Regions from separate parts of the Homo sapiens genome. Here regions 2 and 3 are each linked to region 1. The links come from fine-mapping of genetic effects on gene expression. A gene starts in region 1. Each other region holds a variant in brackets. All regions are shown on one strand. Distances are between the middles of the regions.

Region 1 (8,238 bases):
CTCCATCTCTACTAAAAATACAAAAATTAGCCAGGTGCAGTGGCAGGTGCCTGTAATCCCAGATACTCGGGAGGCTGAGGCAGGAGAATCGCTTGAATCCAGGAGGCAGAGGTTGCAGTGAACCCAGATCACCACAAAGCAAGGCTCTATCTCAAAAAATAAAATAAAAAGAGGTTTCACATACTGTACATAAAAGACAAACCTCACACTCAGACAGCACAGATGTGTGTTGAATCCCAGCTCCACCATGCACTGACAGTGTGACCTTGAGCAAGTCATCTACGACCTCTCAGCCTCAGTTTCCTCCTCTGGAAAATGGGGACAATACCGGTACTTTCTTCAGAGAGTTCTGGTAAAAATAAATATAACCAATTGCTTAGAAGTGTGCTTTCTTGGCCGGGTGCGGTGGCTCACACCTGTAATCCCAGCACTTTGGGAGGCCGAGGTGGACAGATCACAAGGTCAAGAGATCAAGACCATCCTGGTCAACATGGTGAAACACTGTCTCTACTAAAAATACAAAACTTAGCTGGGCATAGTGGCACACACCTGTAGTCCCAGCTACTTAGGAGGCTGAGGTAGGAGAATCATTTGAACCCGGGAGGCGGAGGCTGCAGTGAGCCGAGATCGAAAGTATGCTTTCTTAAACATACTTCTTAATTGTTAGCTGTCAGCCCCTTCTCCAAAAATCTCATTTACTTGGTCTGAGATGGGGGCCCAAGCAACAGTCATTCTTAAAGCTCCCCACTTTAGGTAATTCCAATGGTTTGTGTAAGAGAAAGAGGGGGTGAGCGGGAGAGGAGGAGAAGGGAGGCAGAGCTGGGTTGGCGACAAAAGGCTTTATAACTCCCCAGAAGTATCACAGTTTTGTCACTAAGCCAGAAATGGCTTTGTTCTGCCAGGCTCTGAGATGCCAGCACTCAGAGATGGAGACATGCCACCTTCTCCAGCCAGCCACCCTGTGCCCTCAGGCGAAAAGCCTTTGCTGTGGTGCCCGCAGACCTGGGAGATATAAAGAGTACAGGGCCGTGACTTTGGGCCCCTGGGCCGGAGTGGCTCTGTCTGCCTGGTCACTGTTTCCCTTGCTCAGCATTTACTCACCAACCAGCAGATGGTGCAGAAAATGTGCAGCCCGGCCCCTAATCCGGCTCTAAGTTCAGAATTTGCATGTGATTACCAGAGAGCTGTGGCAGTTCCCTGCATTTTCCTCTTCCCCCACTGCCCCCCAAAAAGGGGACAAATATAAAGAGCTCAACGTGCAATACCACCATTGTCACAGTTCTTAGGGTAACATCACCTCACCTGTCTTTTGCATCTTGCTAGAACCACCTCATTTCAATTACAAAACCCAAGTGTCTGTGCAATGCAGCCGACTGCCTGAACTGGTTTGCAGGTTTAAAGGTTGTACTTGGACAGGCAATACGCATTACTCTCCGACCGGAAAATATGCTGATGCGCTGGACTTACAAGAAGTCTGAGTGTAGACCCATTTTTAAAAGATTATACTATCTACAAAATATCACATATGCTATTTTTTAGCCAAAAGTACTTCTTCCATATTTTCAGTCAGTGGCTTCCACTGTACCAGAGCAATCCTTTTCCTACTTTGTTTTTTTTGTTTGTTTGTTCGTTTGTTTTTTTGAGACAGGATCTAGCTCTGTCACCCAGGCTGGAGTGCAGTGGTTCAATCTCTGCTCACTGCAACCTCCGCCTCCCGGGCTCCGCCTCCCACCTCAGCCTCCTGAGTAGCTGGAACTACAGGCGGGCACTACCACACCCAGCTAATTTTTGTACATTTTGTAGAGAGGAAGTTTCGCCATGTTGCCCAGGCCGGTCTCAAACTCAGGGACACAAGCGATCCTCCCGCCTCCGCCTCCACAATGCTGGGATGACAGGCATGCGCCACCGCATACGGCCTCTTTCTTTTTTTAAATAAGTGACTTTTTCTCAAAAAAAAAAAAAAAGACACTTAAAAGGAATGAGATGCCTGCTTGCACAGGGTTTCTGCCCATCCGACAGTTCTGAAATTACCCTCACCAGGTGACACCGTTGACGCCTTCCCCTTCGGCAGAGTCCTAGTGAAAATGGACATCTTAGTGCTTGGAAAGCTAATGGGAATCAGAGATGATGATGACGATGATGACGGCGGCACCGCGTTATTAAACCTTTGTGCAACGCTATACAAAGTATTTGCAAAGTGCTCAACAATTACTGCACTTTCATTAAGTCAACCATCAGCAGTAAAGCAGCAGCCAAGTTAATTCACATACTCTCCCATTAGCTTATTTAATAATATGCCCCATAAAGTGATTTTTGTGTGGCTGTAAAAGAGCCCCAGTCAGCTTTTATGGCCTTTTCTTGGGGCCTCTCAGATGAGCTCAGACAGTAACTCTGATGAGCGGCAGCAGCTCGGAGCTGGGTGTTACCCCAGCCTGCTGTTTAGCAATCCGGTGGAATGAGTTAGTAAGCCGCAGTTCTGTAGAGCTCCTAAGCCGGAGGTTCAAAACATCTCATCAAAACCAACATGGTCTCACCCTGCCAACGCTCAAAACAGCAGTGTCAGGCCCAAATCTGGAGGCCAACGTGCAGAAGACCTTTCCAGGCCGGGAGTTAGGTGCCTGGGGAGGCAGGGCAAATTCTAGAGTTCAGGCCTCCCTTGGGGGCACACCTTCCATCCGTACTAACTGGCGTGTGCAGGCGCTGCTGCTTCGCGCTGCGCACGGAGAAGCGCCCCGAATCCACCGCACGATGCGGAGCCAGGGGCAGCGAGTGAGCGGCGGCCTCCAGCCCTCCCCTGCCTTCTCCTTGCCCCTTTTGGGAATGGCAGGGGGTTTCCTATGACAAATGCCCGCAAACAGGACAGGGTTCGGACGACCCCAGAGCCGGCGCCTTCTCCCTACACTCTCAGCCCTAGGGCCGGACCCGCCCCCGCGGCTGCCATCGCCCCTGCCTCGGGCGCCCCGCGGGGACCACCCCGCCAGGTGAGCGCCTCCAGGAGCCTCTCTGAAACTCACCTGCGTGAAGTACAAGTTCATCAGCGTGAGGGTGAAAAACTGCAGGCACACAGGGAAGCAGTAGAGCAGCCAGAAGACGAAGGGGCTGAGCGAATTGGCCGCCACGAAGTCTTTGAAGTAGAAGGAGAAGAGGACGGTCCGCAGGGAGGCCCAGAAGAGGCAGAGAAAGAGGAAGACGCTCTGGTAGCTGAGCCGCTTGTGGCGGTAACGCAGCACCAGCCAGAGCTGCACGTAGATGAACACGAAGAGCAGCGCGTAGAACACGGTGTAGACGACGGTGAGGCCAAGCTTCACGTAGGGGGGCACGGCCGGGGTCAGCGTGGGCGGCAGCGAGTCGTTGCGGGCTGGGTCCCACGGCGGGGTCTCCATCGGGCCGGGGGCGCTGCCGCGCGGCCGGGGACGCTCGGGCCTCATCGGGGCTCACGGCCGCCGCCGCCCCCGCGGGGGTCTCCGCGCATCGCGCTCAGCCTGCAGCCCCGAGACTGGAGGAAAGAAAACAAGCCGCACTTCCTCCCCCGGCACCACATGATTCACTGGGACGGCCTTTGTCTGCGATTGGCAGCGCCGCGCCCGCCGCCCCCGCGCGCCGACCGGCCCCGCGCGCCCCCGCCCCGGCCCGCGCGCCCCCGCCCCGGCCCGCGCGCCCCGGCCCGCCCTCCCCCGGGCACCGCGCGCCTTCGCCCCGCGAACCCCGGCCCGCCCTATCCTCGCCACCGCGCGCTCCCGCAGTGCGCGCCCCCAGAGCCGCACGCCTCCTCCCGGCCCCCTCCCCATCCCCGGGGCCGCGCGCTCCCAGACTGCGGGCCCCCAGAGCCCCGCGTCTCTTCCCCCCTTCCCGCCCCCTCCCCATCCCAGGGGCCGCGCGCTACCCGTCCCCGGCCCCTTCCCCATCCCCGGGGCCGCGCGCTCCCGCACTGCGCGCCCCCAGAACCGCGCGCCTCCTCCCCGGTCCCGGCACCGCGCCGCGCGCCCCCAAAACTTCCCAGCCGCGCCCCGCGCCTCGGGGGATCGCACTCGTGGCCTCGCGCATTCTGCTGCTGATTGCTTGTTTTGCAGAAGTTAATTCCTTTATTTAAAAACAAATTTAAAAAAAAAACTTTACAAGTCCTTTCCGTCCCCCCCTTTAAAAATAAAACTTTACGACTCTGTGGCTATGAACTGGCCGGCGTCTGGAATGATGTTTATTTCTAAATGCAGACATGCCAAAGACAGGGTTCGTATTTTTGAGGTCAAATTTGTATACTGAGTGAGGAAATAGACGGTGCCTGCGGCTGCTGCCTCCTCTGGGATGCAAGCTGGGCTGTTTTCTCCCGGAGAGCCTCACGCGCTCCCAGCGCCTCACCTCCCAGCGATGTAGCCGGTGCCGGGAGGCGCGCGGGCCGCGGGTCAGTGGATGGAGCCCACTGGGCTTCAGAGAGAAGTGGGGCAGCTGACGGCACACGGCCCCCCTTGTCCGATCCAACCCATGCCGAAGGAGGGTCTGTCCCCGCCACCCGAGAGCCCTTCTCTTTTGCTTTTGCTGAGCAGCTCGCTCCTCGAGGCTGTACAGCGACTTAGTCTTTGCCCCGGGGCACCACGCCACCCTTGTCTTGGGAGAGCTGGGGAGTGCTCTGGGAAAAGAGGGAAAGCCGGGCGCCCTCTGGAAACATTGCTGGGCAAGCGGTTCTGGTAAACAGAAGAAACTCGGATTTCCGAGGCTCCAGTAATTGTGATTTCTTTTCTTACTCCACTTCGTGCCTAATTGTGTGTTCTTTTTCCAAAAGACGGCCTGGCATATCCAGAATCCACCCTAGCTTTTGCTCAGAATTACTTAGTGGTTACAGCGCTCCCAGCGTATTCCAGGTGGTTCACTGGGGCCAAGTGTGCCTTTGGCGTGGAGCTCCTTTTCCAGTTTTTCTATCCTTTCCCTCTCTCCCTATCGCTATTTCAAGAGGAAATACGGAATTGGGCTCCACGCCTCTGATCTCGTTCCCCTCAATCCCCGTTCTGAACAGCGCAAGTGGAATGATGGAATGATCGCTCTAAAGAACACCTGGCCACTTTACTCCCGTGCTTAAATGCCCTTCCCTTGCTCCTCATAGTTCTGGGGTTAGAGTCTAAACTCCTACCCTAGCTTACCTCCCTGCCTTATCTCTTCCAAGGTGTTAAGCAGTGTTAACACCTCCTGACTCCCCTAGACTAAGAAAATTCTGCCCTTTCCTCCAACAGCTGGTCCTTCCTAGCTATCCATGAGGGTGTAACTTCCTGCAGAGAGCCTCTCCAGAACTCTCCACCCACCAAACTCTCAGGATTAGGCTAGGTGTTTCACCTGTGTGCTTCCCTAATATCCTTGCCTGATTGTTAGTTTCCCCCGCAACACACTTATTTATGTGTCCTTATGATAGAAACTAGGCTTGTTTACCAGTCTCTCCCCTGGCACATTGGAAAAGCATCCGTATACATTTTATTACACTGAAGGAATATTGTTTGTCAACAGAGGTCCAGACTCTGATATTTCTCCCTCCAGTGTGCATGGATTCTACCTCATGATCCAGGAGGGCTACTGGCTCTCCAGACATTGAGTCCACATCCCAGGCCAGCGTTAGGAGGAACAGGGGAAGACTAAAGAGCACTTGTTTTCTCCTGTTTCTGGAGCCTTCCCAGAAAGACCACATAATGCATCCACTTTTAGCTCATTGCTAGGACTTAATTACCCTAGCAAGCTGGCTACAAGAGATTGGGAAACGTAGTTTTAGTCCACGTGGCATTGTACACAGCTGAAAGCCATGGTTCTGTAATTATGGATGAAGGGGCGAATGGATTTAGGAAAAACTAGCATCTTTATCATGACTTCAAAGCAGACAAAAAGAATGCCAGATGGCTACAACAGTTCACCTCTTTGACTACCTAGTGTCAAATGTTTCTTATCATCTTTACAATTCTGAAAATACAATAAAGATGCTCCCACTTAATAACCCTTGTACAATTGAAAAGCATTCCAAGCCAGGTGCTCACACCTGTAATCCCAGCACTTTGGGAGGCCAAGGCAGGTGGATCAACTGAAGTCAGGAGTTCGAGACCAGCCTGGCCAACCAAGTGAAACCCTGTTTCTACTAAAAATACAAAAATTAGCCGGGTGTGGTGGCACATGCCTGTAATCCCAGCTACTAGGGAGGCTGAGGCACAAGAATCGCTGGAACCCAGGAGGCGGAGGTTGCAGTGAGCTGAGATTACGCCACTGAGCTCCAGCCTGGGCCACAGAGTGAGACTCCATCAGGAAGGAAGGAAGGGAAGAAAGGGAAGGAAGGGAAGGAAGGAGGGAGGGAGGGGAAAAAAGGAAGGAAGGAGAAAGGAAGGAAGGAAGGAAGGAAGGAAGGAAGGAAGGAAGGAAGGAAGGAAGAAAACAGAAAAACACATTCCCTCTTTCCCCCAAAAGGATCATCATTTTCTGTGTCCAGCTCCAAGCCCAGGAGCTCTGGGTGATAGCCATTCCTCCAATTCTGTCACCATCTCATCTCAACATTCTGTATCTTACGGACTAAATTATTAAGTTATCCATCACTAGTTTGTCCTGTATAAAATAGTAGAAGAAAAAAATGTAAAGGAAAGGAGAATTCATTATTAGGTTGGCGCCAAAGTAATTGTGGCTTTTTGCAATTAAAAGTAATGACAAAAACCACAATTACTTTTGCATCAATTTATAAAATACATACATATGACACAGCAAGAAAAAAATATAAGTTAGAGTTGTTGTTTTTCTGACTGGTCATAAAGCTGTAATTGCTCTCCTTAATGGACGTTACAAAATTTCCCTTTCCCTTCATCAGGGATCTCAGCTAGTCAGGGGTAGCCCTGATTTCTGAGGAATCTAAGCTTGTTAATGTTTGCCACTGGACATGCCAGCAGCAAGAGGCACTACCATGATTGAATTCTGTCTATTCACCTTTTATTGCTCATCATATAACAGCAACTCTACTTCCTCTTAATAGTTACTGTCATCACAGCCAACACCATCATACTATTTTTTACAATTCACCCACTGGCATGAGGAGTCTGAAATAGCCAGGGTCTCAACTTTTATTTCACTTAAACCACACTTGAATCTCCTGGGGTAGAAGAGTTCCTCCTTGGTTACTAAGACCTTCAAACTAGCCAAGCCTAGAGGCGAAGGAACGGGAAACAAAAAAATTTGCAAGTAAGTCACTGAGTGTTAGTGAAAGGTGCCATTCTCTTGGTTCCTGTAGCCATGTATCCTGACTGCAGGACAAATAGCACGATATGTCAGCTTTGGGTTCAGAAGAAATTCTATATATTATAGGACACCAATGCTACCTTTCTGTGCATTGTTGTCCTGCAGGCACAATAACTAAGCCTACAATTGGTCATTCCACCACTGGATAAGGCCAGCTGCTACTTGAGGGACAGAAATTAGCCTACCACGTTTCTTCTTTTAGTATAAAGTGAGGTCCTTGGTCAGAGCAATATTGTATAGGATACCATGATGATGAGCAATGCATTCAGAAAGTCCCGGGACAATAACGCAGGCACAGGAGGCAAAGAAAGTCAGTCCAAGTTCAGAAACATTGTCTATTACAGCAAGGACAAATTGCTGATATCCTACGTGATTAAAGAGGTCTATATAATCTGCTTTCAGGTGGCTGTCTAGGACTTCCCCTGAGTTTGAAACCTCTTGAAAGGCTCAGAGTTGGCTGGCGATACTCATGAAAAGCCAGGTCAGCCTTGGTGGGGAAGTCCAGATTGTTACAAAATGGATCAGTCAGTCCCTGCCTGCATGGTCACTGTGTCCATGAGCCCATTGAATAAGCAGTGGGCTAACTGGGGACAGAAGATGTCTTCCATACCCAGGGCAGGTAGACATGTCCACCTGAATGCTGAGAGCCTCCAGTAGAGCTGGGTGTTTTGGGGAACCTGACTTGGTGGCTTGATGGATCAAAATAACATGCAGCTCAAGACGGGCAGCTCAGACTCCATGGTAATCTGCCTTCTTGATGAGACATTCAGTCTCTTCCACAGCCCAGGAGCAAGCCATCTCTTTCTCTCAAAAGAAAAATAGTTATTTGACAAATAAGGCATGTATGTGTTCCCAAACCCTTATAACTGACACTGTGATTCTCCTAACAGGGCTTGTCACAGGTAATGTACACCTCTCCAATCTGCCATTGACACTTTGAGCACCGTTAGATCCACGGAGTCATGGATGACAAAACAGATGGCATTGCAGCCT
Region 2 (8,238 bases), 53 kb before region 1:
ATGACAGAAACAAATGGAAACACATCCCCCATGCTCACAGATGGGTAGAATCAATATTATGAAAGTGACCATACTGCCAAAAGCAATCTACAAATTCAATGCAATTCCCATCAAGATACCATCATCAGGCTGGATACAGTGGCTCACACCTGTAATCCCAGCACTTTGGGAGGCCAGGCAGGTAGATCACTTCAGGTCAGTAGTTCGAGACCAGCCTGGACAACATGGCAAAACCCTGTCTCTACTAAAAAATGCAAAAGTTAGCCAGGTGTGGTGGTGCATACCTGTAATCACAGCTACTTTGGAGGCTGAGGCACAAGAATTACTTGAACCTGGGAGGCACAGATTGCAGTGAGCCAATATCACACCACTGCACTCCAGCCTGGACGACAGAGCAAGACTCTGTCTCAAAAAAACAAAAAGGTCATCATTCTTCACAGAAATAGAAAAAATTCTAAAATTCGTATGGAACCAAAAAAGATCGTGCATAGCCAAAGCAAGACTAAGCAAAAAGAACAAATCTGGAGGTATCACATTACCCAGCTTCCAACTATATTACAAGGCTATAGTTACCAAAACAGCATAGTACTCGTATAAGAATAGGCAGGCAGGGCCGGATGCAGTGGCTCAAGCCTGAAATCCCAGCACTTTGGGAGGCCGAGGCGGGTGGATCACTTGAGGTCAGGAGTTCAAGACCAGCCTGGTCAACATAGTGAAACCTCGTCTCTACTAAAAATACAAAAATTAGCTGCGCATGGCGGTAGATGCCTGTAATCCCACCTACTCAGGAGGCTGAGGCAGGAGAATCACTTGAACCTGGGAGGCGGAGGTTCCAATGAGCCGGGATTGTGCCACTGTGCTCCAACCTGGGTGACAGAGTGAGGCAGGTACCCCAATGGAACAGAATAGAGAACCCAGAAATAAGGCCAAATATGTACAGACAACTGATCTTCAACAACACAAATAAAAACATAAAGTGGGGAAAGGACACCCTGTTCAACAAATGGTGCTGGGATAATTGGCAAGCCACATGTAGAACAATGAAGCTGGATCCTCATCTCTCACCGTATACAAAAATCAACTCAAGATGGATCAAAGACTTAAATCTAAGACCTGAAACCAGAAAAATTCTAGAAGATAAATCAGAAAAACTCTTCTAGACATTGTCTTAGGCAAAGAGATCATGACCAAGAATCCAAAAGCAAATAAAACAAAAACTAAGATAAATACATGGGACCTAATTAAACAAAAAGTCTTCTGTACAGCAAAGGAAATAATCAGCAGAGTAAACAGACAAGTCATAGAGTAGGAGAAAATATTCACAGACTATGCATCCAGCAATGGACTAATATCCAAAATCTTCAAGAACTCAAACATATCAGCAAGAAAAAAAAACAACTAATCCCATCCAAAAGTGGGCTAAGGACATGAATAGACAATTCTCAAAAGAAGATATCCATATGGCCAACAAACATGAAAAAATCCTCAACATCACTAATTCTCAGAGGAATGCAAACCAAAACCACAATGAGATGCCCCATACCTTACTCCTGCAAGAATGACCATAATTCAGAAATAAAAAAATAACAGATGTTGGCATGGATGTAGTAAAAAAGAACACTTTTATACTGCTGGTGGGAATCCCACTTACTGGGTATCTACCCAGAGGTAAAGGAGTCATTATATGAAAAAGACACTTGTGCAGGCATGTTTATAGCCACACAATCCACAGTTCCCAAAATACAAAAATATGGAACCAGCCTAAATGCCCATCAACCAACTAGTGGATAAAGAAAAATGGTATATATATACCATGGACTACTACTCAGCCATAAAAAGGAATGAAATAGCATCCACAACAACCTGGATGGAGTTGGAGACCATTATTCTAAGTGAAATAACTCTCAGGAATGGAAAACCAAACATTATATCTTCTCACTTATAAGCAGGAGCTGAGCTATGAAGATGCAAAGGGATAAGAGCAATATAATGGAATTGGGGACCTGGGGGAAGGGTGGAAGAGGGTGAGGGATAAAAGACTACACATTGGGTACAGTGTACAATGCTAAGGTAATGGGTGCACCAAAATCTCAGCAGTCACCACTAAACAACTTTTCCATGTGACCAAACACTACCTATTCCCCAAAAACTTTTGAAATTAAGACAAAAATTTAAAAATAATATTAATTCTTGGCCACGCACAGTGGCTCATGCCTGTAATCCCAGCACTTTGGGAGGCTGAGGCAGGTGGATGACTTGAGGTCAGGAGTTCGAGACCAGGCTGGCCAACACGGTGAAGACCCATCTATACCAAAAATACAAAAATTAGCTGGGTGTGGTAGCTCATGCCTGTAGTCCCAGCTACTCAGGAGGCTGACGCAGGAGAATCACTTGAACCCAGAAAGCAGAGATTGCAGTAAGCCAAGATCATGCTACTGTACTCCAGCCTGGGCAACAGAGCAAGACTCCATCTCAAAAATAAATAAAAATAAAAATAAATGAATTCATGAGCAATATCCTACAAGCAACCAAAGCAAAATGGAAAAATAGGATCATATCAAGTTAAAAGCTTTTGCACAGTAAAAGAAACAACAAAGTCAAGACAACCCACAGAATGGGAGAAAATATTTGCAAACTACCCATCTGACAAGGGATTAACAACCAGAATATTAGGAAAAGGTGTAGTAATCAAAATTAAAAATGGGCAAAAGATTTGAACAGACATTTCTCGAAAGGCAACATACAGATGGCAAACAGGCATATCAAAAAGTGTTCATCAATGATCATCAGAGAAATGCAAATCAAAACTACAGTGAGATATTACCTCACTGCAGTTATAATCGCTTATATCTAAAAGGCAGTAACAAACGCTGGCAAGGATGTGGAGAAAAGGGAACCCTTGAACACTGTTGGTGAGAATGTATATTAGTACAACCACTATGGAGAACAGTTTGGCAGTTCCTCAAAAATAAAAATTGAGCTACCACATGATCCAGCAATCCCACTGCTGGTATCTACCCAAAAGAAGGGAAATCAGGATATTGAAGAGATATCTGCAATCCTGTGTTTGTTGCAGCACTGTTCACAATAGCTAAGCTTTGGAAGCAACCTAAGTGTTCATCAGCAGATGAATGGATAAAGAAAATGTGGAACATATACAGAATGGGGTACCACTCAGCCATAAAAAAGAATGAAATCCAGTAATTTGGAACAACATGGATGAACTGGAGATGATTATGTTAAGTGAAATAAGCCAGACACAGACAAACATCGCATGTTCTCACTTATTTGTGGGATCTAAACTCAAACAATTGAACTCATGGACACAGAGAGGAGAAGGATGGTTGCCAGAGGCTGGGAAGGGTAGTGGCGGGGGGAGAGTATGGTTAATGGGGAAAAAAAAAAAAAGAATTTTAGTGAATGAATAAGACTTACTATTTGATAGCACTAACAACAGGGTGGACTATATAGTCAATAATAACTGTACATTTTAAAATAACTAAAAGAGTGTGATTGGATTGTTTGTAAAACAAAGGATAAATGCTTGGGATGGAGACACCATTCTCCATGATGTGAAATAATCATCATGCCTGTATCAAAACATCTCATGTACCCCATAAATATACACACCTATTATCTATGTACCTACAAAAAAATTTTTAAAAGCTAGATGATGCCCAAATTAGCCAGAATAAAGTAGATAGTTCAATTTGGATATAAATCATGAGAGCAGTCATAACAATGGTGAAATCATTTGGGGAGGATTTCTCATCCCATTTCCATCTCCTGCCTCTATAATCATTTCATCCTGTTTCTGCCCCCAAACTGAGTTTACCTCTCAAAAAATTTCCAATGACTGGTCTCAGGTACACCCTAGAGGTCATTGCCAGTTTTCAGTATCACAGCTGCCCTGGGATGACTGTTGGGGTTTGAAAAGCCTTTTCTGCCAGCAGCTTCTAAAAAGTAAAGTTGTCTTTGTCAGGAAAGCCTAAACAAGATCAGAACTAGATTATATGGTACACCAAATCAGGCATATGTTTTGACATCATTGTTCTTAACATCAGTGACCTATTTAAAAGTTAATAGAACATGAACAGAGGTGGCCACATGACGGCTATCTAAATGTGAATTCCTGCTTTGCTAAGACTAATTGCAGCCAAACATAAGGAGCAAAGTGGAACTAACACAAGGTGGATTGCCTTAAAATTTACTCTTTTTAATAGTTTAAGAATACCTATGAGCCACGCGCAAAAGAATGAAGTTGGATCCTTATCTCACACCATATACAAAAAATAACTCAAAATGTATTAAAGACCAAATGTAAGAACAAAAACTACAAAACTCTTAGAAAAAAATATAGGGGCAAGTTTTCAGGGGCAAATACAGATGCTTCTCAAAATTATGATGAGGTTACATTCTGATAAACTCATTGTAAGTTGAAAACAAATAAAAAATACACACCATAGAGTATCAGTTGTTGACCCCTATGATCGCATGGCTGACTGAGAGCTGTGCCTCACTGCTCTATACATCTTGAGAGATTATCATACCCCATATTGTTAGCCTAGGAAAAGATTAAAAAATTCAAAATTTCAATTATAGTTTCTACTGAATGTGTCCTGCTTTCACACCATCTGTAAAGTTGAAAAATTGTAAGTTGAACTGTTGTAAATCAGGGACCATCAGTATACGATGTGGCAAAGGGTTCTTGGGTATGACACCAGAACACGAGCAACAAAAGATAAATACAGTGGACAAAAGTAAAAGCTTTTGTGCTTCAAAGGATACCAATCAAGAAAGTGAAAAGACAGCTACAGAATGAGAGAAAATATGTGCAAATCATATACCTGACAAGGGACTTAAGAGTATATTTAAAACATATAAAGAACTCTTACAATTCAATAATAAAAAGACAACCCAGTTTAAAAATGGAC[A/G]AAGGATGTGAACAGACATTTCTCCAAAGAGGATATACAAATGACCACTAAGCACACAAAAAGATCCTCGACAAACTTAGTCATCAGAGAAATATACATCAGAAGCCAAAAGGAGATATCATTTAATACACATTATGATATCTAGAATCAAAAAGTCAGATAACAAGTGCTAGGAGCGTGGAGGAATCAGAACCTTCATACACTGCTGGTGAGAATGTAAAATGGTGCTGTCTCTGTGGAAAATAGTCTGGCAGTTTTTCAGAAAGTGACACTCAGAAATACCATATGACCCAGCAATTCCACTCCTAAGAATATACCCGAGAGAAATGAAAACATATGTTCACACAGAAACTTATACACAAATGTTTATAACAGCCTTATTCATCATAGCCAAATGGTGGAAATGACCCAAATGTCCACTCATATCCACAAATGGTTTCCTTAAATGTGTCCTTTTTATCATTTCAAACTTCTTGATGTGGGTCAAGAAGTTTGAAATTATAGTCCAGGCACAGTGGCTCACACCTGTAATCCCAGCACTTTGGGAGGCCAAGGCAGGTGGATCGCCTGAGTTCAGGAGTTCAAGACCAGCCTGGCCAACATAATGAAACCCCATCTCTACTAAAAATACAAAAATTAGCCAGGCGTGGTAGCAGGCACCTGTAATCCCAGCTATTTGGGAGTCTGAGGCAGGGGAATCGCTTGAACCCAGGAGGCAGAGGTTGCAGTGAGCTGAGATCACCCCACTCCACTCCAGCCTGGGTGACAGAGCCAGACTCTGTATCCAAATAAACAAACAAACAAAAAAAGCTTGAAATGAAATGATAAAAAGGAAACATTTAAGAAAAACTTAAAATTCCTTAAAACCAGTGATGTCATACAGCGATAAAAACATATCACCTATTAGATGGCCGAATAGGAACAGCTCCAGTCTGCAGCTCCCAGCGAGATCGACACAGAAGGTGGGTGATTTCTGCATTTCCAACTGAGGTACCTGGTTCTTCTCACTGGGACTGCTTGGACGGTGGGTGCAGCTCACGGAGGGTGAGCCGAAGCAGGGTGGGGTGTCGCCTCGATCGAGAAGTGCAAGGAGTCAGGGAATTTTCTCCCCTACCCAAGGGAAGCCATGAGGGACTGAACCTGAGGAACTGTGCACTCCGGCCCAGATACTGCACTTTTCCGACAGTCTTCACAACCCGCAGACCAGGAGATTCCCTCTGGTGCCTACCTCTCCAGGGCCCTAGGTTTCAAGCACAAAACTGGGCGGCCATTTGGGCAGACACTGAACCAGCTGCAGGAGGTTTTTTGTTTTTTTTTTTTTCCCCATACCCCAGTGGCATCTGGAACGCCAGTGAGACAGAACCATTCACTCCCCTGGAAAGGGGGCTGAAGCCAGGGAGCCAAGTAGTCTGGCTCGGTAGGTCCCACCCCAACGGAGCCCAGCAAACTAAGATCCACTGGTTTGAAATCCTCGCTGCCAGCACAGAAGCAGTCTGAGGTCGACCTGGGACACTCAAGCTTGGTGTGGGGAGGGACATCCGCCATTGCTGAGGCTTGAGTAGGTGGTTTTACCCTCACAGTGTAAACAAAGCCGCTGGGAAGTTCAAACTGGGCAGAGCCCATGGCAGCTCAGCAAGGCCACTGTGGCCAGACTGCCAGATTTCTCCTCTCTGGGCAGGGCATCTCTGAAAAAAAGGCAGCAGCCCCAGTCAGGGACTTATAGATAAAACCCCCATCTCCCTGGGACAGAGCACTTGGGGGAAGGGGCAGCTGTGGGCACAGCTTCAGCAGACTTAAATGTGCCTGCCTGATGGCTCTGAAGAGAGAAGGAGATCTCTCAGCACAGCGTTCAGGCTCTGCTAAGGGTCAGACTGCCGCCTTCAGTGGGTCGATGACCCCCATGTATCCTGACTGGGAGATACCTCCCAGTAGGGGCTGACAGACACCTCATACAGGAGAGCTCTGGCTGGCATCTGGCAGGTGCCCCTCTGGGACAAAGCTTCCAGAGGAAAGAACAGGCAGCAATCTTTGCTGTTCTGCAGCCTCCGCTGGTGATACCCAGGCAAACAGGGTCTGGAGTGGACCTCCTGCAAACTCCAGCAGACCTGCAGCAGAGGGGTCCGACTGTTAGAAGGAAAACTAACAAACAGAAAGGAAGAGCATGTCCACTCAGAGACCCCATCCGAAGGTCACCAACATCAAAGACCAAAGGTAGATAAATCCACAAAGATAGGGAGAAACCAGCACAAAAAGGCTGAAAATTCCAAAAACCAGAATGCCACTTCTCCTCCAAAGGATCACAACTCCTCGCCAGCAAGGGAACAAAACTGGACAGAGAATGAGTTTGATGAACTGACAGAAGTACGCTTCAGAAGGTGGGTAATAATAAACTCCTCCGAGCTAAAGAAGCATGTTCTAACCCAATGCAAGGAAGCTAAGAACCTTGAAAAAAGGTTAGATGAATTGCTACCTAGAATAACCACTTTAGAGGAGAATATAAATGACCTGATGGAGCTGAAAAACATAGCACAAGAACTTCGTGAAGCATACACAAGTATCAAGAGCCAAATCGATCAAGTGGAAGAAAGGATATGAGATTGAAGATCAACTTAATGATACAAAGCAAGAAGACAAGATTAGAGAAAAAAGAATAAAAAGGAATGAACAAAGCCTCCAAGAAACATGGAACTATGTGAAAAGACCAAATCTACATTTGATTGGTGTACCTGAAAGTGATGGGGAGAATGGAACCAAGTTGGAAAACACTCTTCAGGATATTATCCAGGAGAACTTCTCCAACCTAGCAAGACAGGCCAACATTCAAATTCAGGAAATACAGAGAACACCACAAAGATACTCCTTAAGAAGGGCAAGACACATAATCGTCAGACACATAATCGTCAGATTCACCTAGGTTGAAATGAAGGAAAAAATGTTAAGGGCAGCTAGACAGAAAGGTCGGGTTACCCACAAAGGGAAGCCCATCAGACAAAGAGCAGCTGTCTCTGCAGAAACCCTACAAGCCAAAAGAGAGTGGGGGCCAATATTCAACATTCTTAAAGAAAAAAATTTTCAACCCAGAATTTCATATCCAGCCAAACTAAGCTTCATAAGTAAAGGAGAAATAAAATCCATTATAGACAAGCAAATGCTGAGAGACTTTGTCACCACCAGGCCTGCCTTACAAGACCTCCTGAAGGAAGCACTAAATATGGAAAGGAACAACCAGTACCAGCCACTGCAAAAACATATCAAATTGTAAAGCCCGTCAACACTATAAAGAAGCTGCATCAACTAATGGGCA
Region 3 (8,238 bases), 24 kb after region 1:
TTCCTTGAGCCCAAAGCCTGTGGTCTTCTAATACAATGTCATTCGTGGGTTCCCTGTTGGCTCATCAGCTACCAAGCTTGGTACCAGGCAATTTGGGATAGGATGAAAACAAAGTCGAAAACATGCTCTTTGACCCCAAAAAACTTACCTCCTAATTGGAGAAGTGAAAATAACCCAGAAACAACCACAGAGTGCTTTAGAGAGTCATGGGATATGGCCGGGCATGGTGGCTCACGCCTGTAATCCCAGCATTTTGGGAGGCTGAGGCGGGTGGATCACCTGAGGTCAGGAGTTCAAGACCACCCTGGGCAACATGGTGAAACCCCATCTCTACTAATAATACAAAAATTAGCTGGGCATGGTGGCGCGTGCCTGTAATCCCAGCTACTCGGGAGGCTGAGGCAGGAGAATCGCTTGAACCCGGGAGGCAGAGGCTGTGGTGAGCCGAGGTCGTGCCGCTGCACTCCAGCCTGGGCAACAACAGCAAACTCCATCTCCAAAACAACAACAACAAAAAAGAGTCTTGGGTTAGGGGAGGAAAGAAGGAGAGATGCAACCAGGTGTGATTGATTTAGCAGGTGGAAAAGTGGGGAAGGCCTACCAGGCAGAGAATCGAGGTGGGTAGACTAGTCTCGTGGAGACAGACCATGGTCCTGGAGTCATTGATGTTGAATCCCAGCTCCTCCGTGTGCCCGCTGGGTGACACTGGGCAAGTTATTTTTTCTGTCCAAACTTCAGTCTTCTAATCTGGAAATCAAGTTATGTTTTCTACTTCTTATGTGGCTGCAAACATTAAATGAAGTAAGATGAATGTAGGATTTTGGAGAACGAAATGCCTGTGGCCCACAGCTGCCTACGATGTAGGGGTGGCACATCTCCCGGGGGGCGAAGCTGGGTGAATTTCCAGTGTCAGCTGCAACCACCAGCTCAGCCTCCTGCTTAGTAACCATCTTTACGACTACAGACAGCAGTCCTCATCTCTGCCCCCTAATTAGCAGTCCTAACTAAGTGATAGGTGGGTTTGGTGGAAACCACACACAACTACCGAGGAAACCAGCTGGGTTTGTCAAAGGAAACCAATCTCCCTGTCCCTCTCCGTGCCCCTCTCTGTTCCCCTCTCCCTCCCCACTTCTCTTCCCTTTCCTTCTCTGCAGTGACCTAGGATCTCACTCAGTACAGCCGGCTTTCAAAGAACTCTAGGCAGAATCGCTCTCTCCTCGATGAGTCAAATCTAAGGCCATTTATCTCAACCCGTAACGTGAAAATAGTGAAAATCAAGAGTGAAACAGAAGTTGTTTCCTCTCGAGAATCAAGAGTGAAACGAAAGTTATATTTCCTCTAGAGAATCAAGAGTGAAATGGAAGTTGTTTCCTCTAGAGAAGCCCCTTGAATAACTTGGACATTTCTATCAGCAACCGTCTTCTAGAATCAGGTCACAATCAAGGGTGAGGGGAGAAGTCTGTGATTCCCAGCACCATGAGAGGATGCAGCCACCACTTTGATACCTTGGAAAATGTGGATCAGTTTAATCTGAAAAATGTTGAACAATCTTCAAACACAGATGTCCCCACTTTCTGGATTTTCGGGTTGAAAGAGATGGAAAATACTCCTTTGTTTTACACCTGAAGGCTGCTGGGCCTTCTGAGATCTGCTAGTCAGCGGCAGATGTAGAAAAAACCAGGACTCAAGTTTTCTGATGCAGAGATGTCTTTCAGCCGCACCGCTCTGCCTGTGTCTCGGTCTGGTGTGGGCTCATCTAAAGCAGCAAGCTCTCGTAGACTGTGATCCGGAGGCGGGAAGCATCCCCCTCTCCACCCTCCTTAAAATGCCTCCCCCTAAGAAGTCTTTCTACTCCAGTCCAGGATTACAACACTTACTTTATTTCCTTTATTTTCTTAGGACCATGCAGAGACTGCGTACATTTCCTCTAAGGCTTTGTCACCCCGTGAGGTCCCTCAGTAGAAAGGATGTTTACATAGTGGGAAGGGTCAGAACTTTCCAAGACCTGATGTCCAGTCCTTACTCTGCCCCTTACTGATTTTCACTCCATCGAGACAATGATCTCTTTTCTAGAGCAGCGCACATTTATTTATTCATTGTCCAAATATAAGGTACACTAAGCACTGAGACATAAAGAGGACAAGCAAGACCTCCCCGACGCCCCTACCCCTGCTTCCAGGACCTTGCTCTGTTGTGGAGACAGATGGGCACACGGGCAACTACATCATATGTTCTAGGATAAAGCGACCATGTATGCAGAGACAGGGAGGCATGAGGCAGCCTGGGCTTCCAGCACTGGGACTGCAGACGGTTCTACTGCAGACTGTAAAGGGGTGGAGTGGGATGGGGATATTGTTAGAGGTCACCAGGGGCCAGATGACAAGGGACATCCTATATCTAACTAAAGAGGTTAGATGTTATCATGTCAGCTCAGGCCGCCCTTGTAGACTTGAGGGCAGGATCACACTTTCCTGGTAGAAAGATCGTAGTTGTCTAATTAGCAAGGCCAGAGGCAGGCAAACCAGGCAAGTGCTTATTGAAACGTTGCAGGGAGTGAGGATGAGTTCCTGAGGCAGGAGAAGGAGAAGCCTGAAGAAAAGAACCTGCTTGAGTCCAGGAGTTCGAGACCAGCCTGGGCAACATAGCGAGACCCTGTCTCTATCTAAAAAATAAAATAAAATAAAAAGGGGAGACTAATTTAAAAACATGAAAAGAGGCCGGGTGGTAGCTCACGCCTGTAATCCCAGCTACTTGAGAGGCTGAGGCAGGAAAATCGCTTGAGCCAGGGAGGTGGAGGTTGCAGTGAGCCGAGATCACGCCATTGCACTCCAGCCTGGGTGACAGAGCGAGACTCCGTCTCAAAACATAAAAACATGAAAAGGGGCCAGGCACAGTGGCTTACGCCTGTAATCCCAGCACTTTGGGAGGCCGAGGCCCGCAGATCAACTGAGGTCAGGAGTTCAAGGCCAGCCTGGCCAATGTGGTGAAACCCCATCTCTTACTAAAAATACAAAAATTTAGCCTGGCGGGTTGGTGAGCGCTTGTAATCCCAGCTACTCGGGAGACTGAGGCAGGAGAATTACTTGAACCAGGGAGGTGGAGGTTGCAGTGAGCCGAGACCTACCCCTTACTGATTTTCACTCCATTGAGACAATGATCTCTTTTCTAGAGCAGCGCACATTTATTTATTCATTGTCCAAATATAAGGTACACTAAGCACTGAGACATAAAGAGGACAAGCAAGACCTCCCCCACGCCCCCGACCTCTGCTTCCAGGACCTTGCTCTGTTGTGGAGACAGATGGGCACACAGGCAGCTACATCATAAGTTCTAGGATAAAGCAACTGCTGTCCAGCCTAGGAAACAGAGCGAGACTCCGTCTCAAAACAACAAAAAGAAACAAAACAATCAAACAGAAAAACATGAAAAGAAAAGGACAAGAAAACACCCAAGAATTAGTAGTAGGAAACTCAAGACAGAGAGTATTATGGAAACCTGGGGAGGAGATAATTTCTAAGAGAGATTGGAAAACAAGATTGTCAAATGCTGCAGACCAGAAACAAGACAAGACCAGGAAGCAGCCCATGAAACTCAGCCCCCAGGAGGCCTTTGACAGCCTGAAGGGAGTCAGTTCCAGGACAGCCACGGGCAAAAGCCAGAGTGCAAGTGTTAAAGAGAAAACACAAAAGCAAGGTAAGGAAGAAAGCCTCAGTTTCCTCACCTGACGATGAGGACGGCAATAAAATGTTATGAGACTATGGATTCAAAAGCTTCAAAAGCTTACCCACGGATGATTAAGAAGTTCCGGAGCTGGATGGTGGTGACAGTTGCAACGACATCGTGAAGGGACTTAAAGGCACTGGATTTTACACTTAAAATGATTTAAATAATACATTTTGCCTTATGTATATCACCCCACTGAATTGTACACTTAAAATGATTTAAATGATACATTTTGTCTTATGTATATTTTACTGCAATTTTTAAAGGGGAAGAAAAGCTTACAGAAAATGGCAGTGTTCTGTGCAGGTGTTGTTTATTTATTTAGAAGGCTAAG[A/G]AGGAGAGCTCGTGCTGAAAGCTTGGGAGAGGTAAGGGGCTGAATGATCAGGAGTTTCAGGTGTGGGGAAAGCGCAGAGGAAAGGAGGCCACACCCCGCTCAGGTAACAGGTCCAGGCTGATCCCTGATAGGTGTCGTAAGATATCAGAGTCAGAACTGACTGTGGCCCCGCAATCGAAGTGTCTTATTTTGCCAGGGAGGCTAAAGGGAGAAGGGGAGGCAGCGACTTCTCAGAAGCAGCACCGCCATCCTCACCTAGGTATAGGGTCCTCTGAGGACCAAATGAGAAACTGCTTGTGAAAACCCTGGGTGAAATACTGCATACTAGAGGATCAGGAGGTAGACTACCATCAGCGTCCCCCGACCTTACAATGTTGCATTGTAGTAATTAATACAATATGAAATCATTTTTATGTTATTGAGAAGAATTTGGAAAATATAGAAAACCATGGAATAAAATTAAAAATAATCATTGTTGGCCAGGCGCAATGGCTCACACCTGTAATCCCAGCACTTTGGGAGGCCGAGGTGGGCGGATCATGAGGTCTAGGAGTTTGAGACCAGCCTGGCCAATATGGTGAAACCCCGTCTCTACTAAAAATACAAAAATTACCCGGACGAGGTGGCTCGTGCCTGAAGTCCCAGCTACTCGGGAGGCTGAAGCAGAAGAATCACTTGAACCCGGGAGATGGAGGTTGCAGTGAGCCGAGATGGTGCCACTGCACTCCAGCCTGAGTGACAGAGCGAGACTCCATCTCAAAAATAAAAAATAACCATTGTCTCTCAACTTGACACTTTTTTTTTTCTTTCTGGAGACAGGGTCCTGCTCTTTTGCCCAGGCTGGAGTGCAGTGGTGAAATCATGACTCACTGCAAACTCTGCCTCCTGGGCTCAAGCAATCCTCCCACTGCAGCCTCCCTAGTAGCTGGAATCACAGGTGTGCACCATCATATCTGGCTAATTTTTATAGTTTTTGTAGAGACAAGGTTTTGCCATGTTGCTCAGGCTGGTATCGAGCCCCTGGGCTCAAGCGATTTGCCCACCTCGGCCTCGAAAAGTGTTGGGATTACAGGCATGAGCCACCCTGCCTGGCCATGATAACCTGAACAATTTGATAATGTGACTTTCAAATAACTTTTCTTATTATAGCTTCATACTCATATTCATATTCATAATTAAAAATCTGGAAAATACAGAAAAGTATAAAGAAGCAGATATGCATTCCTGGTAACCCCACAGTTTATATGTATTATACCAGACTTACTGATAGTCTTTCTGTAAATGCCCTTTTAAAAATTATGGTATATTGGCCAAGTGTGGTGGATTATGCCTGCAATCCCAGCACTTAGGGAGGCTGAGGTGGGTGGATCACCTGAGGTCAGGACTTCGAGACCAGCCTGACCAATATGGTGAAACCCCATCTCTACTAAATACAAAACATTAGCCAGGTGTGGTAGTGCATGCCTGTAATCCCAGCTACTCAGGAGGCTGAGGCAGAAGAATCGCTTGAACCTGGGAAGCAGAGGTTGCAGAGAGCCGAGATGACACCATTGCACTCCAGCCTGGGCAACAAGAGCAAAACTCCATCTCAAACAAACAAACAAACAAAAACAGTATATTTTACATAACCTATTCCTTCCACTAAATATAGCATGAATATTTTCTCATATTATGGAATATTCTTTTAAAACATTATTGTAAATGACTATATAGTATACCATCTTGCACATGTAAAATTCTTATAAAGAGTTGTTTTAAGTTTTCAAGAGACAAATGAAATATATTTGCTTTTTAAAATTAATTATAATGGTTCCATGCAGCACACATAGGAAAATTCAGAAACAGAAAAAAACCGGAGCTGGGTGCGGTGGCTCACACCTGTAATCCTAGCACTTTGGGAGGCCAAGGTGGGCAGATCACCTAAGGTTGGGAGTTCGAGACCAGCCTGACCAACATGGAGAAACCCCGTCTCAACTAAAAATACAAAAATTAACCAGACCTGGTGGCACATGCCTGTAATCCCAGCTACTTGGGAGGCCGAGGCAGGAGAATCGCTTGAACCCAAGAGGCGGTGGTTGTGCTGAGCCAAGATCACGCCATTGCACTCCAGCCGGGGAAACAAGAGCGAAACTCCGTCTCCAAAAAAAAAAAAAAAGAAAGAAAAAGAAAAGAAAAAGAAAAAACCCCACTTGCAATCCTACCTTTTTTTTTTTAAATGCATGTCTTATTCTATACACAAATCAACACACACGTATATATGCCTTTTTTTTTTTTCTCTGAGATGGAGTTCTGCTCTTGTTGCCCAGGCTGGAATGCAATGGCACAATCTTGGCTCACTGCAACCTCCATCTCCCAGGTTCAAGTGATTCTCCTGCCTCAGCCTCCCGAGTAGCTGGGATTACAGGCACCCACCACCACACCTGGCTAATTTTTGTATTTTTAGTAGAGACGGGGTTTCTCCATGTTGGTTAGACTGGTCTCAAACTCCCGATCTCAGGTGATCCACGTACCTTGGCCTCCCAAAGGCCTCCCAAAGTGAGCCACCACACCCGGCCTATGTATATATACCTTTTAAATTTTTTACTTATAAATCTATTCTGAACATTTTCTTAAATCAATAAAATTCTATAGAACAATTATTTATTTATTTATTTAGAGACATGATCTCACTTTGACACCCAGAATGGAGTGCAGTGGCACCATCACGGCTCACTGTAGCCTCGACCTCACTGGGCTCAGGTGATCTTCCCACCTCACCTTCCTGAGTAACTTGGGCTGCAGGTGTGCACCATCATACCTGGCTAATTTTTATATTTTTTGTAGAGATGGGGTTTTGTCATATTGCCCAGGTTGGTCTTGAACTCCTGGGCTCAAGCAATCTGCCCACCTTAGCTTCCCAAAGTGCTGGGATTACAGGCATGTGCCACCACACCTGGTTAATGTATTTAATTTTTTTTTTTTTTTTGTAGAGACACAGTCTCATTGTGTTCCCCCAGGCTAGTCCTGGCTTCAACTGATCCTCCCGCCTCAGCCTCCCAAAGTGCTGGGGTAACAGGCGTGAGCCCCAGCTCCCAGCCTTCACTGACATTCTGATTAGCAAGCTGGCTTTCCCCTACCCCTGCATTCCAACATGGCGTCCACTCTCTAATCCTCCCACCATCTACCCATTTTCCTTTGAATTAGACGGATGCTTAATAACTTCTCTAGGATACGGTTAGTGACAAGATAAATAACGCCCTTCGGATGGAATTGGCCACACCCTGAAAATCTAAGTCAGTAACATTTAGCAAACACTTATAAAACTCCTCTGATGTTCATAACATTTCATGAAATGTTGGATGTACAAATATTAACATGATATGCCCCCCACCCTCAGGAGGTGCTCAGTCAGTGGGGAATGTGGACACACAGGTGGGTTGTCTGGGGCAGAGTCTGTGCACTGAGCTGAAGGCATGCCGCGCCATCTGCCTGAGTTCTCCCCATTTAGAAATATTTGCGGTTGCACATTGCTCTGAATGATACGTGATGGGAAAAGAACTGGGTGTGAGGCATACAGCAGGAAAACAGATTGAGCAGCTTGGACAGCACATCAGGACGGGGCACTGAGACCTGTCCTGTGTGATCCTTTATATAGAAACAACAATAATAATACCTAGCAACTCTTTCACTCCTAAAGATAATCAGTGCCCAAAGCCCATCCCTTCCTCTGCCCTTGCTCAGTCCCTTGTAGGTGCTGTGCTCCCTCCTGCCCCAGGGCCTTTGCACAGGCCACATCCTGCCCAGAACCTGCTTCCTGACCTCTTTGACTGGATAAGATTTTCTCAAGCTGCAGATCTTGGCTCAAATATCACTTCCCCAAATGATGTAGGGGAAATATATATATCAATATATCTTTTGTGTTCCCCCAAAAGATATTTTGAAGTCCCAACCCTGCCCCCCGCTGTAGCTGTGAAAGTGACCTTATTTGGAAATGGGGTCTTTGCAGATATAATCAAGGTAAGATGAGGTCATGCTGGAGTAGGAACCCTACATCCAATGACTGGTGTTTGTATAAAGGAAAGATATGTTTGGACACAGACAGAGATAGAGGGGAGAAGTTCCTGTGACACCAAAGGCAGAGACTGGAGTGACACATCTACAAGCCAAGGAATCCCAAGGGCTGCCAGCAATGCCAGATGCTG

What was found. PIP is the estimated chance that this variant, and not a neighbour inherited with it, causes the effect.
Region 2: its variant is the best candidate, but not a certain one, in a credible set for the expression of GPR137B in whole blood (TOPMed, PIP 0.59).
Region 3: its variant is the best candidate, but not a certain one, in a credible set for the expression of GPR137B in whole blood (INTERVAL, PIP 0.50).

Annotation. Positions count from the first base shown.
Region 1 is chr1:236,137,813-236,146,050 of GRCh38, reverse strand. GPR137B (G protein-coupled receptor 137B) reads right to left here and starts at 3,512. Exons shown (of 7, transcript NM_003272.4): 1 at 3,015-3,512. The coding sequence starts at 3,428. RefSeq lists an enhancer at 2,785-3,288 and silencers at 3,254-3,523, 3,594-3,773.
Region 2 is chr1:236,190,394-236,198,631 of GRCh38, reverse strand. The region is part of intron 5 of GPR137B (G protein-coupled receptor 137B); the gene reads right to left. Among named protein-coding and RNA genes, the nearest start is that of GPR137B, 52 kb to the right of the region's middle. The variant A/G (reference allele first, on the strand shown) is at 4,935.
Region 3 is chr1:236,113,830-236,122,067 of GRCh38, reverse strand. No RefSeq gene overlaps it. Among named protein-coding and RNA genes, the nearest start is that of GPR137B, 25 kb to the left of the region's middle. RefSeq lists an enhancer at 1,271-1,390. The variant A/G (reference allele first, on the strand shown) is at 4,058.